2 separate regions of the Homo sapiens genome follow, and region 2 is linked to region 1. A link means that fine-mapping ties the variant in region 1 to the expression of a gene that starts in the linked region. Tissue or cell type: B cells. Region 1 holds a variant in brackets; the other region holds the start of a gene. All regions are shown on one strand. Distances are between the middles of the regions.

Region 1 (8,112 bases):
GGGATTACAGGCGCTGCCACCATGCCCAGCTAATTTTTGTATTTTTAGTAGAGACAGGGTTTCACCATGTTGGGCAGACTGGTCTCGAACTTCTGACCTTGTGGTCCATTCGCCTTGGCCTCCCAAAGTGCTGGGATTACAGACGTGAGCCACCGCGCCCAGTCAATTAACTTTCTAAACACAGAAGGTATACTAAAGCATAGTATACTTCATACAGTCATGAAGAATGTGTGAAGGCTTAAACCTTCCCTTCTGGTTTCACTCTCTTCCATTTCCTTCCTTGTCCTGTTTTCCCCCACCGAAAGATGAGCATCTAATGGCCTAGTTGCACGGAACTACTGCAAGTTCCCTGAATATGCTTTGCACTCTCAAATGTTTGTCTTTAGGTAGATTAACTTACATTTGGATACCTCCTACTCATCCTTCAAAACTCAGCTCAAATTGCACCTCCTCTGTGAAAACTTCCATAACTATTTTAGTCAAAACTTAACCTCACCCACTTCTTTACTCTTAGCCCTTTCTTTAAATCTCCATTTTGATGTTTAACATCTTATTCCACAAACGTGCATGTACAAGAAGTGATGGATATTCTTATTTTCTCTCATTAAGTCTGACTTCACGCTACTTCCCCAAGGGCTGTTGGAAAATGATCTCAGTCATTGTGGACTCTCCTGTCCCCCTCCCCTCCCCAAACTCTCTAGGATTTTCACAAGGACTCGGGATTTCAGGAACCAGGGGAAGGACCCCTTCTTTCTCAGACTGCCCTAGATAATTGTCAGTGTCAGAGCCTGCTGTTTGGTATCCTTGCCTTCTCTGTCACTTTCTAGGTAGGAGTCTTTGCTGATGCTGGAAGTCCTAGGCCTTTGGGGCATTGTGTCCCTATTCCCCTCCTGGGCTTTGCCACGCCCAAGGAGCTGCACACCTGTGCCCCACTGCTTATTGCTTCTGCCTCCACTCCTTCCCCCTAACATAATTTCCAGCTTTATTTAGAGAGGGCTGCAGAGACCAGGCAGCTAACCTGAATGAATGGTATTGGCAGAGAAAATGGTAGGGACCAGAGTGAACTGGAGGTTGCGCCTCCTTTAAAAGGGACAGACATTACTCAGCTCCAAGCAATTGCAGCCTGGTGAAAACGTAGGCCCAGTATTGCGAGATCATCCAATTTTTCCAGGAAAAGCTGAAATCTAGATTTTATGTGAAATCTACTTTCAAAATGTTGGCAATTATTTTTGAAAACTTCAAAACACTATTCATTACAAATGAAATCTATCTGTTAAAGTATTATTCAATCTGGAGAAGGCTGCTTTGAGACCTCTGCTATAAAAAAGAAAAAAATAAAGGGCCTGGTAGGAGGTTTGCTTCAAAACTCCCCTGATGTAACTAGCCCCAGAGCCATTCTTGAAAATGGTTGAGGGGGGAAATGCAAGGAGAACAGACAGAGAGTAACGTCTCAGTAAATCATCCTGTCACATTGAGACTCTTCACATTGTATTGTAATTAATTGTGTATGTCTCCAGCACCTGGACGCCCTAACAGTCCTGTCAGGCAGATTGGCACCACCTCCAGCCTTCGCTTGGCCTGCACTGCTGTCTGTCAGACTGTTTACTTGTTCTTAGCTCCTTCTCGAATTTCCTTATGACCCTCCCAGACCTCTCTCTCCCACTTACCCAAGACCTCGGCTTATTTCCAGACTCCTCTCTCTCAGGAAAACCCCTATTTCACCAAGAAAATTCTGCCAATGGTCATGCTTTCCCCAGCTTTCAGCCCTCCCTGCTTTCCTCCTCCCGTGTCCTCACTTTCCTTCCAGCTGCAGAGGAAATGTGACCCTCCTCCTGCTCAAAGCCAAGGCTTCCACTTGTGCCGTTGGTGATGCATTGAAACTACCTGTTAAAACTTCCCTATCCGCCGCATGTAACAAGTCTGGACCTCTGTTAAGAGAGATCTGTTGTTCATTCATCATCGCATTCCTGGAGTCTAGTACGCTGCCTGGGACAGGGAAGAGGCTCAATAAACATTTATTGAATAAATACCTTTTTAAAAACTCTGGAGGCTGGGCCAGTCCTTAAACTTTCTAGAGACACGAGACAACTGTTGAAACCTGAGTTTTCATAGGTTATTGATCTCGAGAGGGTAGTTCCCCTGACTCTGTGCATGGGCTAAATTTGGAGGAGATAATCCAGGAGGGAATGTAGCTGGCAGGCCAGGGAGTTTCTCCTGGGTCAGGTTGGTGCCATCCAGCTGTGAGTTTGCTGTATGAAACCTCCTGTCTGTCTTCTCTGGTTACTGCTGGTGAGGCTGGCATTCTGGTACTTGCTGAGGGGAGCAAAGGGGAGCCTCCATGACCAAGGTGTCACATTGCTCTCTGTCCTCTTGGGTTTTTACCCCATTAAGACACCACTACTCCATTAAAAGATTATTTTGGGGGAAAAGACAGATAAGCTCCAAGCCCTCTTACTCCTTGTATGTTTTCTCTTCTTTTTACTTCTAACTTAAACTTTTTTTTTATGTTTGATGATATCTTAACATCCATATAAATCATCTGATTATTTTTATCTTTAATCCTACTCTCATGAAGGATTAAAGTATCTCATGTCCTATTTTAAATCTTACCTTATTACCCTGTTGGCTTTCAACCTTTACTTACTTAGAATATCTGCTTTAAATTATTTCATAACTGACCTCATTTTTAACTTTGACCTTAGTTATTTTAACCTTCTAATTTTCTTTTTAAATTTATCTTCTTGCTCCAACCTTTATTCCATTTATCTTATAGCTCATACTTCTGTTTTATTAGGGCTTTTAAAAATAGTTTTCTTGGTTTAAAATTTGGCTTGTTACTCGTTTAAAATTTTTTATTCTTATTTCTTAATTTACAGCTTTTACTTGGTTTAAAGTATTCTAGCATCATTTAGCATCACATTCTAATCTTTTATTTTTTCTTCCTCTCTTTTTTGGCACCATAACTTTTTTTTTAACCCTTTTCTCTTATTTACAAGTCTGTCATTCAACCTAGCTCAAATAATGACTTGTAAGAAGCCCATTGAATACAGGAATCTTCTTTGCCCTTGCCCTTCTTTCTGCCAGTCACCACTATAACTAAATTTTTTTTGCATTAATGTTGCTTTTTGCCACAGCATTCTATGCAGTCTTTATTTTTACATTGTCTGGTTTAAAATCCATAGTCTTTAATTTTTTTTGGTTGCAAAGAACAAACCCATTTGATTGTAACAAATGCATAAATAAGGAAACCAGAATCTCAGTCACTAGGTAGGCCAGGCATCCTGTCAATCCTATGAAAAGTCCTCAGGAAGAGCTGAAAGTCTTGTGGAGTTAGGCCTCACAGGCACAAGAACAAAAAAGGGTTCAGAGGCAAATGCAATATCAATGTGGGAATCGTTATTTTATGGCTTAACACATGTAACCTAACTATATCTGAATTTCAAAGATAAGAAGAAAATCATATTAACATCCAAGGAAAAAGAAGCAAGCCACTCAAGAGGGAAACAATGGCCATGTTCAGGTATCCCCAGATTCCTCCAAAGCAATTCTTATTACAGAAGGCAGAGGAGCAGGATTTATACCATTGCTACTCAAAAGTGTGGTCCATGAACCAGCAGCATTGGCATCGCCTGTGAGCTTATTAGAAATGCAGAATCTCAGTTGCCATTCCAGATCTACTGAATCAGAATCTGCATTTTGACCAGATGCAAAGATGATTCCAATGGACCAAAGCACATTAAAATTTGAAATGCACCAGCCTATATAGTTGTGAGAGAAAGAAAAAAGTGATGCATTTTTTAAAAAAATCCAAGGAGTTCCTTTAGTATAAAGGCAACAAACCAACATTCTCAAATCAACCCTGTGTTTTTGAACTTCACTTGCAACTTTCTTTGGTTTTTCTTTGCCCCACTAAGAGAGCCTGTTTGTGTAATTTATTTGAGATTGGAGATATTCATTTGCATATTAGACTCACTAGAGGAATTTTTTTT[T/A]AAAATACTGTTGCATGGATCTTACCCTCAGAGAACCTGACTGAATTGGTCTGGGATGATGCCCAAAAGTCAGTAGTTTTTCAAAAGTTTTCAAGTTCATTACGATATGTGGCCAAGGTGATAATCATGGAACCAAGGGAGACCAAATCCACGAAGCTTTCTTGAAAAAAGTTACTGAAAGATGGACACCAGACAATAAAGAAAGGAATCAAAATACAGTACTCAGAAAGGAAGGAGCTGTGGTAAGCAGTAATAAGTGAGTCAATTTAAAAAAACTACAACTAAATAACTGGGAATTTTTGTTAAAGAATATCACAACTGGGGCTTTAGATGGCAAATATGCTGTTCTCTACCCCCTACATTTCTATTTATGTTTGGTGCACCCTTACTAAATCTGTTATTCTCTGAGTTTTACGTCATCAGTTCTCTGGGTTTCAAACCAATGACTCTTGGGCCACATCCCTCATTTTACGCACCTTATCACTGGCAGGTTTTCCCTTGGCTAGGAAACTGGACAGTGGAAATGGTGACTTTGCCTGTCTGCTCTCAAACCGGGCTTCTGAAAGGGAGCCAGAAATATGGGCTGGGGGAAGGCTAGGGAAAGCCTAGTGCAATTATATTGGAAGTAGAGGTATTAGTATGAACTCATAATTTTATTTCTGTAACCTGCACAGCTCCCATCTCCCTGGGACCTTGCCTTGCAGATTCTGGCACTTCAGCTGCCCCAACCTCTGATCTCTTCCTCCTCAGTTCAGAGGGACTGCTGTGCTCTGCGTGCATTCTGGATCACTACTCTGCAGTTAGGAAAATTTCCCCAGGCAGGGAGCCAGGCTCATCATGACGTTCACCTCTTAGGTTTCCCTGCCTTCAGGGATTGATTGCAGTCTTGCATTGCCTACTCTGCCTCGTATTGCTTGTTCGCCAATGTCTGAAAACACTTGCCTTTGATATTTCATCCAGTTTTACAGTTAAGGCAAGAGGACTAGTCCCAGATACTCCATCAGAGACAGAAGTGGAAGTGCTGGTCTCTATATTGGATAATAGCATTATATTAATATTAAATTTCCTGAAATTGGTCATTGTACTATGAAGATGAAAGAATTGCTTGTTCTTAGGGTATACATGATGAAGTATATGGGACAAAAGGTTATGATGTCTTCAATTTACTCTCAAATGTTTCAGTTCAAATAGTCATATGAATAGCAATAATATGTATATTTGTAGAGGGAGCAGGAGAGATCTTGATAAACCACATATGGAAAATGTTATCAGTGGTGAATCTAGATGAAGTGTATATGGGAATTCATTGTAGGATTTTTGTAACTTTTCTGTAAGTTAAAAAAAATTTTTTCAAATAAGGAATAAATAAAGCATCCCCTTCAGTGTGGACTGGACTTAATGATTCATTTCTAAAGATTAGAGTAGGGAAAAAAATAGTAACTTTACGGTGGAGAAAGTTGACAGACACCACCTTAAACAAGTGATATTAACCAAGTGATCATGGTTAATATCACTAGTGATAAGTCAGGTGGATATCATGTACCCATTTATATTAAGTGATGCAAGGGCATGTCACCTCTGTGATTTTCTCACTCACAATTTATAACCCAAATTGGCCAGGTGCTGTGGCTCACGCCTGTAATCCCAGCACTTTGAGAGGCCAAGGCGGGCGGATCACTTGAGGTCAGGAGTTCGAGACCAGCCTGGCCAACGTCGTGAAACCCCATCTTTACTAAAAATACAAAAATTAGCTGGGCGTGATGGTGAGCACCTGTAATCCCAGCTACTCAGGAGGCTGAGGCAGGAGAATCACTTGAACCCGGGAGGCAGAGGTTGCAGTGAGCCAAGATCGCGCCACTTCACTCCATCCTGGGTGACAGAACAAGACTCTGTCTCAAAAAACAAAAAAAAATTATAGCCCAAATTAAAAACTGAGTGTCCTTAATATACCTTTCCTTAGATACCCTTTAAAACTGGGTACATATTAGCCATTTCATTTTCTTTCTACCTACATAAGACGCATCCATCTCTAGAGAAATGAGGATATGTGTTTATGAATTTTATTTCAATTTTAGAGTCCAGAGAAATTTATGACATTTTTATAATACAGTGATTTTTTTAAATGTGTAGTCCCATTTTAATACCAATGTCAGTGTTACTAAATAAATGCCATTCATAACATTTAAAGAAGGAAGAAGAACTCCACATATCTGGCTTTGAAGGTGGAGGCCGGGGGCCAGCACTAAGGAATGCAGGAAGTCTCCAGAAGCCAGGAGCAGCCTTCAGCTGACAGCAAGGAAACAGGGACCTCCGTCCTACAAGGGAGCCTCCCCTAGAGCCCTTAGAAGGGAACACAGACTGTCCTCTTCGATTTTAGAATCATCTTGATTTTAGTTTGATATGACTCACTTTGACTCTCTGACCTACAGAATTATAAGAAAATGAATCTGTATTGTCTTATGCCACATGAAGTGTATATGGGAATTCACCCTATATATACTAAGCCAGTAAGTTGTGATTGTTATGGCTGCAATAAAAAATGAATACACTAGGCCTCACTGAGATAGTAGGAAAGTCTTGAAGGAGGTGAGAAAGGGGGCCATGAGGAAATCAGGGGGAAGAGTGTGCCAGGCACAGAGAACAGCAAGTGCAAAGGCCCTTGCTAGGAGCATGCACAGCACAACCAAGGGACAGTCAGGAGGCCAGTGTGCCTATGATAGAGTGAGCAAGGAATAGATTTTAGGAGAAGACATCAGCATAGGAGGATTTGCCTTCTCTGTTGTGAAATCGGACTGATTGCACTTCCTACCCAAGCTGGGAGGAGGAGAACCACCTTGCCCTTTATCTGATTGAGAAATTAGGTGCTCAGCCCTAAATCCTGTCCCCCACTGCCCAACTCCGTTCACTCGAATGGTAGTTTTGAAGCATCCTCATTTGTTTGGCTACTTCACCAATAAGGCCAACTCTTATATAGTTGGCCCTACCAGCCATCTCCAAATCACCCATTTCCAGGACATGGTTATCAGACCTGATGAGGTGGCTTGCTGTGGCTCTGCCCACTTTGAAGGTCAGCATGGCCATACTCCTTTATAAACAGTAATCTTTCTTATACCTGCCTCTCGGAGATTAGGATTCCTTTCCTGAAAGTTGGTTACAAGAGCCCCGATGTGCTGGTTTTTCTCATAGGATTTAGCATCAACCTGCAAAACATATGGAATTTTCAATATTCAACTCTTCACATTGTGGTTTTAGGCGTTTTATCTTTCTGGCTTTGGAGAATAGATATTTTGGCAGATGTAAAGGTGATTGGCTGTCTCTACATCTGTCAAGCTCCAAAGCACTGTTACCAAGCATCAGAGACCATATTTCAGGGAATATTTTCCTTCTATTTTAACTGAGTCTGTGATAAACTGGATGTGATTTGCCTTAATATTGACAGTTTCTGCCCAAAGCACATGTGATTGGTTTGGGTTGAATGACCGCCACCCTTTCTCTCATGATGGGAGAATATGTGCTCTCCAGCTTGTACAGAGAACAAAGTAATTGAACCAGAATAGGATGAAAAGAATGTCTCCTTATTTCTATTTTTGTATTCTCCTGAAAGTCCCCAAGTTGAATACTTCTGATGTATTTACATTTATTGTTCCTGTTCTTGAAATTGATGTAGGGTGGGCATTGGGTCCTGGCTAATTATTAATTTAAGTACCCCCAGTACCTACCACCGTGTCTAGCATCCAGTAAATATTTTTAAAATTAATTCACTCAACCATCCCCTCATAAAATGAACAGCCTTTCTACATTTTTTATGTCTCTAATATTGGAAATTGGTAACATTTGGTGGCATTGACCATTTATTATGTACCCGATAAAAGCATTCCATTATCCTTTAATTCATTGGTTGAAAATAGTTTGGAGGAAGTGTTAGCTCATGAGAATAATATACTCTTAATTTATTAAACATTTATAGTAAATTAACAGAAAAACTTAAACAAAATTTAAAAGTGAGCCCAAAGGGATGAATTGATGAAACATTTTATCATGTTTTATAACTGAAAATACAGTCTCCTAGATAGATACATTCAGTACCCTGTGGGTGAGGAGATGTGGTAAAATGGGTGTGAAG
Region 2 (8,112 bases), 150 kb after region 1:
CAAAGCTGTAAGCCTTCCTTGGCCTTGGAAGGTCATGAGACTTTTTTTTTTTTTTTTTTTTTTGGCTAAAACAAGGAATGCTTTAGTGAGAGAGAAGAAAAGAACTTCCAGACTTCTAGGTGGCTCCCACTTTTTTTAAAAAAAACTCCTCCTCTCTCTTAAGTGTATGGTCCAGTGATGTCTGGTTACCATGCAAGTCACATCAACAGCTGGACAGCACTGAGCATCCTTAGAACTCTAGGTCTTGTTTTTCTACTAAAGTTTTCCCAATCTTCCTTTGATGTCTGGCACCACCAGCCGACAGCAGCTGACTAACGTGTTATCATGTGACGCTCTGTAAAATAGTAAGGCACAGTAAGATTTTTTTTCCTTTCAGTAAGCTTATGCTGATAAAAAAATAATTATTTTAATGATGTATTTAGAAAAAGGATTATGTACAACAGAAAGTCACAAGGGTAACACTAATTAAAAGGTGTCTCAATTTATTACTACGAATATTTCACAGAACCTACATGCATTTTTACCTGATATTTGCAAAGGCCGTTTCATATTATACATATAACCAGCAAAGAAGGAATATAGAAAAGTGTGGGTCTGGCTTTTCTATCATGAAAAGCAAATTTAACAGTGATAAAGAAGGCAATCAAGATACAAATACAGAAGCCAGGCATGGTGGCACACACCTGTAGTCCCAGCTACTCAGGAGGCTGAGGCAGGAGGATCACTTGAGGCCAGGAGTTTAAGACCAACTGGGCAACATAGTAAGACTCCATTTCAAAAAAAAAAGATAAAGATACAAACTGATATTACGATCTTACTCATTATATCAACATATTTATTGAGCACCTACTACATATACTGGGCACTGGTGATTAAACCAGGTATTATCAACTTCATATTAACCTAAAGGGCAAGAAAAGGACCCTAAGTGATTAAATAATATATAAATTGTGGTAAATATTCAGAAGCAAAAGTGATTACGCTATGAGGGAGAAAATAAAGGACATTTAATTCGCATGACGATAAGGGTGGGCTTGTCAGAGAAGACCTTTATGAGAAAGGACATTTGAGCTAGCACCCAAGGATGATAAGTTACTCAAGGAGATGATCCTAAAATAGGGAGACCAACAGCATGAGCCACAGGCCTGAGGCTAGTCTGCTGGAGAACTGGCCAAGATGACAGCAAGAGATGCAAGTGGATGTAGAGATCAAATCATGCAGGATCCTGAAGTAATGTCAAGGATTTGGTATCTTATCCCAAAAATAAATAAATGTGTTTCCTGAGAGCCCTGACAACTTTAAGACGGCAAATACTTTTTCTTTTTTTTTTCAGGCTGCTGGTAGTAAAACAGACTGCAAGGGGTGCAGAGTGTGTGCAGGAGGCACCGCACCAAGGAAAAAGATAATACAGTACAGTGGCTTGCATTAGGATGGCAGAATAGTGGGGACTGAAAATCAGACCGGTTTGAAAGAGATTTTGCAATAAAAATGGACAGCAGGACTTTATGATGGACTGGTTTGCTAGGGCTGATAGAAGAAAAGAGAGAGTGGAGTGAGCTACTCCTTGGATGGATGAGATGAAAAATGGAGGGGGAACAGTTTGAAAGTTTGAGTGACCAAGAGCTCAATTCTGAAGGAGTTTGAGATGTTGTCATTTATTGGCTGAAATGTGCCAGGCACATCTAATATATATTAGATGTTCTACTCACCATAGCATCCCTTTAAGTAGTGGTATCCCCATTTTCCAGAAATGCAACTGTAGATCACAGAGGCTGAAGTGGCATGGCCGAGCTCACTCACCTCGGGAGTGACAAAGTCACACGTGCAACCCAAGTCTGGCTGGCAGTGGGGTAAACATTCTTTCCACTATACAGAATACTTGGAAACTCTCTCTACACTTTGAATTTTTAAGTCTATTTAGGGTTAGAGCAAGTTAGCATCAAAGAAGAGTAAATAAACGTTATATTATTTTGTAATCCAAATCTTTAATTTATGATGCATGTTTTTCTATCCAACTCCCATTCCCACTCCACTTTTACTTGCAAAGAGTTTTGTAATGTTTTGAACACTAGCAAGATATCTAAGATCTTAATGTTTTATAATAAAGGAGCAAAGCCATTATGCCAGGAATTAACCATAAGAAAAAGACAACAATATCCCACGGCAAACAATATTTTTACTTCCAAGTCATTATATACATCAACATAAAACAGATCAATTAATGAGTCAGAAACCCTGAAGAACTAATCATTTCTCAAAACACAAGGCAGTCAGGTCAAAAACTGACGTAAGTCACCACGTATAGAAGCCTACAAGAGCCAAACACTGAAGATTCAGGTTAAAAGGTTGCAACCTTAAAAAAATAAATAAAAGGCAAAACAAATTATACAACCATGTCGAATTTTAAATCTGTAATTACCAAATATCTGAACCAAATGCCAAATTCAGGAAACATGCATCCTATAAACAACTTAAACACTCTCTGTTCTTTGTAACTGTTTTTTCCAGAAGCACACTGACACTTCTGCAAAGTGAAGTGCCTTTCCTGCCTGCACAGCCCCATGATTTGCTCCCTCTCAGGGCCCTCTAATGCACCCCTAAGCTACTAAAGCCCAGACATAAGATTTGATCAATAAACCTAGAAAGAACTCAGTGCATTACTGCCAATTGTGTCCATCACAGAAAGTACCACCTGGAGACTCTTGAGGAAAAAAATGAGGAAGGGGGAGATTTTTGAAAGGTTTTATCATCTGTATTACAAATTATATTTTGTTGTACTTGATCCTTGAATAGAATAATCATCAAACTATGTTCAGTCTTCTTCAAGTGGGGGATGGTCATGTGTAATTTTATGGTTTGGGGAGTGTGCCTCATAGAGATAAATAAAATTAAAAGTACCATTAGTATGCCCGCTAAAAGATAAAACTCACACAAACCACTTCCCCAAATGATAGTGCTGTCTCCTGCGTCCTGATTTTTGCGTCCACCCTGCACCTCTCCCTGCAGAAAGCTGGCTGGCATTCACTACCGCCTCACTCTGGCAAAGGACAGGATGTCGAAAACCCATTAAGAAAGCTTCTCATTTTCTGTTCCTTCATAACATGATGGCAACTCCTGGCAACTCCAAGATGAAAGGCAAAAAAGAAAATAAAAACTACCTGGGGCCCCCTACCAGAATGAGTGGTTAATCTAATGGAGAGAAAAGCAGAGATTTATACATATTTTAAAATGCTTCCTGGGGACAAAGCAGATCTAATGAATTGCTGAGCCACAATCTACTGGAAAATCCATAAATGTTCGTCCCTGCTGTCACAGGGCTAGAGGATTTTTTTTTTTAATGAAATGCTTTAATGCTAACCTGACAGGGCTAACCTGACAGGTTTAAGTCAGCTATGAGACGTGATTTGCATTCATTTCGCTTCTAAATCCCTAAAGATCAGCAACAATATTGACCCGCAATTATATATCCTACGTTGCACTGTTCAAGATGCCATTTGAGGCTGGGAAAGTAGTGGTTTAGCAACACCAGGCGGCTCTATGATGCTAAAATAACAACGCAACACTGGATTCCGAACCCAAGTACTCATCTTTTAAAACCCAGTGCCGCACCAGGACCCACATTCAAAGCTCGCGTCCCTTCAAGTTGAATCTTCCGGCTTTGTGCGATTTACCCTCTCAAACTTTCTAGTTTGCAAGTCAGAATTACTTTGAACGTCCCCTCTTCTGGACTCCCCTCCCCAAAGGGACTGGCGGCAAAGGAGAATAGAATGCAGATGGTTAATAGTTCAAATGAAATTTAAAAACCTATAAACCAATATTTTTTTAGAGGAGAAAAGCGTTCACCAAACCGCCACCCGGCAAGCGAGCATCCGATTTCCATCCGGAGGAAAAAATATTTTAAAAACCAGACATAAAATTCCCTTTGCAAGAAAAGTGGCCTCTAAACTCCCTTGCCAAGGACACTGGGAGGAAGCAGAAAAGCAAAGACCAAGCTCGTACTTTTCAGTCCGCGGCTTGTGTGCCGCGAGGAGAGGCGCAAAGGGTGACACACCAGGAAAGGTGAACGCAGAGGGAGCGGGAGCCCGCGGCGGGGCAGGGTGGGGGCGGAACGGACGAGGTACCCAAGGTGCGGAGAGAGGGGCAACCGGGCGGAGGGCAGCTCCGAGGCTGCAGGCGGGACGGGCGGGGTCCCCGGCGCAGCCCGGATCGCCGCCGCTAAGTAAAGTTAATACTTACTCAGTTTCGCAACTGCGCCGCCCCCGCAGGCCGCCCAGAGGGGCCGGCCGGGGCGCTGGGGACGCGGCGGCACCCGGAGCTCCGCGGCCGCCCAGCGCCCGTCCCCGCGCCGCACTCCCCGGCACTCCCCGGCGCTCCCCGCGCCGCGCGCCCCGCACCGGCTGGAGGCCCCGGCCCCCCGGCGTTCCCTCTCCGCGCACCTCCCGGCCCGCGCTAGGTGAGTGTGGACGCCACTGGCGGGGGTGCCGCGGTGCGCGAGCGCTCGGCCAGCGGCAGAGACGCCGCGGGAGCCGCCCCCAGCGCCAACGCCGCCGCGGGCGGGAAGGGCGAGGCTCGGCGAGGCTGGGCGAGGAGCTGGGCGGCAGACGCTGAGCGGGGCGCGGCGCGGGGCGCCGGACGAGCGCGGGCGTAGGAGGAGCGCGGGCGTAGGAGTCGGCGACCCGCTCGCTCCCGCGGCCGGTGCCTCTGGGCTGGGGGCCGGGCTGGGGGCCGGGCCGGGCCGGGCCGGGCCGGGCGGCCAGGCGGCTCCGCCCCTTCGCCGGGCAGCGGCTGAGCGCGCGAGAGGAGCGGCGCGGGGGCGCCCCCCTCGGCCGGGCGCTCGGGTTTCAGCCGCCGCTCCTCCGCGCCCCGCCCGCGCCTGGCCCGCTCGCCGGCGCCGGGAGAGACCTCGTAACGGAACTGGGACGCCAGCGCTGCATTGTGGGAGCTTTTAAAGCGGCGGGGAGCTCGGCGCGACCCTCGGGCCCACCGGGCCACGCTCGCCCGGCCCGCGACGCCCCCCCGCTGTCGCCTGGCCCGCGACGCACCGAGGCCTGAGGACCCGAAAGCCGGGCGCGGGGAGATGACCGGTGGCTCGTGACGGTCCCACGGGCAAAATCTTCCATCGCCCGGGGCTGAGACTTGTCAAACTGCCCTCTACGGTCACCCGGAAAGTAGGAGGCTTTTTCTGCAGAGGGGAAAAAAATCAAAAAGAGCCGTTCCATCCCCCCTCCAAGGACTGGGTTTGAATTGCTTTTCATCTGCAGTGGCTGTGATTCAGCGTCCCTCTTAGCAGCAGGCAATGACAGAGGCAGGAGAGGGGAAAAAAAAAAAGAAAGAAAGAAAAAACACAGCAAATGAATCAAACGGACGTGAGTAACAAAAGTTTAGAAAGAGCTGGGCTCGTATTCAGAAAAAACGCCTCATCCCCCCGCCCCGCTGCACTCCCAACCCCTTTAAAAATAGCAGATAATCAAGAAAGGAAACGGGTGCTTTCATATGGAAATACAGATGTGTATGTTGTTTTCAATATTCTACTGTTTTTTTGTGTGTGGCATGCAATTACTCAGGCACTGGGCAAAATTCAGCCTTTGGATTTTGTGGTCACACATACCCCAACTCCGCAACAGCTATTAATTTGCAGGGCGATGGGGTGCGGATAGTGGATGAGATACAAGAAAGCATTCCAATTAAAATGCCCCCCCCCACCCCGCCTTTTAATTTTCCAGACACTTGCTTTTATTTTTCTTTTTTTAAACATCATCAAAACAAGAATATTAAACTTGAAGCAGAATTTGTTACAGCGTATCTGACTCAGGACCTGATTTAAGGTTTGGGGTTTTTTGGCCCTTTGTTTCTTCCTCTTGTTTTTTGACCTTTAGTTACTCCACACCTCATTAGTTCCTTGACCTGCAGGTGGACTGAGAAGAGAGCCATGGTAAGACTCAAATTTGTCAAATCAACATTTGGAGAGGAGAAAGTTCACTGTGATTCAAATGCAAAACCAAAGGGAATATGATTTAAAAGTCAACCTGGAGGGCATGGATCCTCCCTTAACCCTACTTGACTCTTTTCAAAGGAGTTGCCTAGCCTTAAGGTGAATGTTTCCTAACCTCTCATTCCCTTCTCAGCCTTTCACTCCACTGAACAACATCAGCCATTGCTTAATTGCCAAATCTAATGGAAAAATTTAATTCCCATCTTGTGCCCTTTGTGGCATTTGCCAATGTTGACCTCTCCTTCTTAGAACTTTCTGCCTTTTGGCCGGGCGCGGTGGCTCATGCCTATAACCCCAGCACTTTGGGAGGCCAAGGCTGGCAGATTGCCTGAGGTTGGGAGTTCGAGACCAGCCTGACCAACATGGAGAAACCCCGTCTCTACTAAAAATACAAAATTAGCCGGGCATGGTGGCACATGCCTGCAATCCCAGCAACTGGGAGGCTGAGGCAGGAGAATCGCTTGAACCTGGGAGGCAGAGGTTGCAGTGAGCCGAGATCACGCCATTGCACCCCAGCCTGGGCAACAAGAGCGAAACTCCATCTCAAAAAAAAAAAAAAAAAAAAAAAAAAAACTTTCCTCCTTTCTTTGGCTGTGGTAGTGATCCCTCTTTTGTGTACTTCTTGAAGCAGGTAGCAGGCAAGAGTGTGGTTATCGTTGGACCAGGATTCAGGATCTGACTGAGTAGCTGACTCTTAATCCAGTTTGTGTTGATCACCAGGAGGATCTGGACCTCAGTATTACCACATCTAGAGGTGAGCAAGTTGACTGACTCTTGATAACTAACTCTTATATGATGAGCATTTATATCAGGACAGAACTTCCTGATTGGATAACAATACCTACTATTTAGGAAAAACCCTTCCTAAAAATCCAGGTATCCTCACCTCCAGTCTTACTGATGGCTGCCAAAGTCAGTGAATTTGCCTCCATTCAGTGCTGGATAAGTGCAGAAAAATCTTTACCCTACCTAGCCCATTTGGTTAATGCGTTCTTTCTTCAGAGTGTAGTACAATTTGTTTTAAGCTTTTTTTTTTTTTTGGTAGCTATAATCACATCCCTGTTAAGCCTTCCTGAGATCACACCAAATGTCCTTGATGGGAATTGTAAACAACCCTTACTTCTGGTTTCTAATGATATTCCAGGAAAGGAGCCTAACTAGAGTCAGTGAGTATTCATGCACTTCAAACCCTGTGACATAATAAGATTTGATTTTTAAGAAAACAACTTGAGAGGATGGATTCAGAAAAGAGGCAGATCCAAGGGAGAGTCTAAACTGGAGAGCAGTGGCAATGAACAGGAGGAGGCCATATCGAGAGATGAATTGATCATCTTATAGACCTGGAGGTCAGAAATCTAAAATCAAAGTGTGGGCTGTGTTCCTTCTGGAGGATCGAGGGGAGAATCCATTTCCTTGCCCTTTTCAGCCTCTAGATGCCACCTGCATTCCTTGGCTTATAGTCCCTTTCTCTATGTTTAAGGCCAACTGCATAGCATCTTCCCCCATTTCTTTGTAACTTCTGCTTCATGGTGATGGGGACATCTCTCTCTCTGATCGTAGGAATTGATTTAGATGCTTTTCTAGCCATATGTATTATGAACTAAATGCAGTTGAATTACTTATGGGAGGAAATGGCAGGTGACCTCATTACTTGTCAAATCATCGTTAGATAACTGACTTGACTGTTAAGATTGCTGAAGCAGTGATTTATTACCTCAGCTAAATCTGTATCAATCTGGTGACCCGTGTAACTGAAACCAAGATGTTAACACTGTAAGAAAACCTAGCTTATGTTTGCAGCTCCTGAGAATAAATCCCTTTATCTTGAAATACCTGGAAATCCCTTTTTAATGTCCAGTGGAGTCATATTGCCAAGTTTGAGAAATGTGTCTAGACCAGTATTTCCCAAACAGCCCACCAGACAACACCAGCCTGTAAGATGGTGATATTGTTTGGATGTTTTTTCCCTCCAAATTTCGTGTTGAAATGTGACCGCCATGTTGGAGTTGGACCTAGTGGAAGGTATTTGGGTGATGGGGAATCTCTTGTGTGGCTATGTACCTTCCCTGCAGTAATGAGTTCATGAAAGATCTGGATGTTTAAAAGAGTCTGTGATCTTC

Direction of the effects. Positions count from the first base shown, and alleles are read on the strand shown. Sizes are in standard deviations (SD) of each study's normalised expression.
In carriers of allele T in region 1, the expression in B cells of the gene that starts at base 4,703 in region 2 tends to be lower than with A alone (large effect, 1.6 SD a copy in Fairfax 2012).

Evidence for each region. PIP is the estimated chance that this variant, and not a neighbour inherited with it, causes the effect.
Region 2: it holds the start of RASSF8, and the variant in region 1 is fine-mapped to the expression of RASSF8 in B cells (Fairfax 2012, PIP 0.95).

What each region holds. Positions count from the first base shown.
Region 1 is chr12:26,103,244-26,111,355 of GRCh38, reverse strand. No RefSeq gene overlaps it. Among named protein-coding and RNA genes, the nearest start is that of BHLHE41, 18 kb to the left of the region's middle. The variant T/A (reference allele first, on the strand shown) is at 3,990.
Region 2 is chr12:25,955,273-25,963,384 of GRCh38, reverse strand. RASSF8 (Ras association domain family member 8) reads right to left here and starts at 4,703. Exons shown (of 6, transcript NM_001394098.1): 1 at 4,237-4,703. RASSF8-AS1 (RASSF8 antisense RNA 1) reads left to right here and starts at 3,943. Exons shown (of 4, transcript NR_038228.1): 1 at 3,943-4,059; 2 at 6,621-6,746; 3 at 7,038-7,158. RefSeq lists silencers at 4,092-4,141, 4,282-4,331, 4,402-4,501, 4,602-5,091.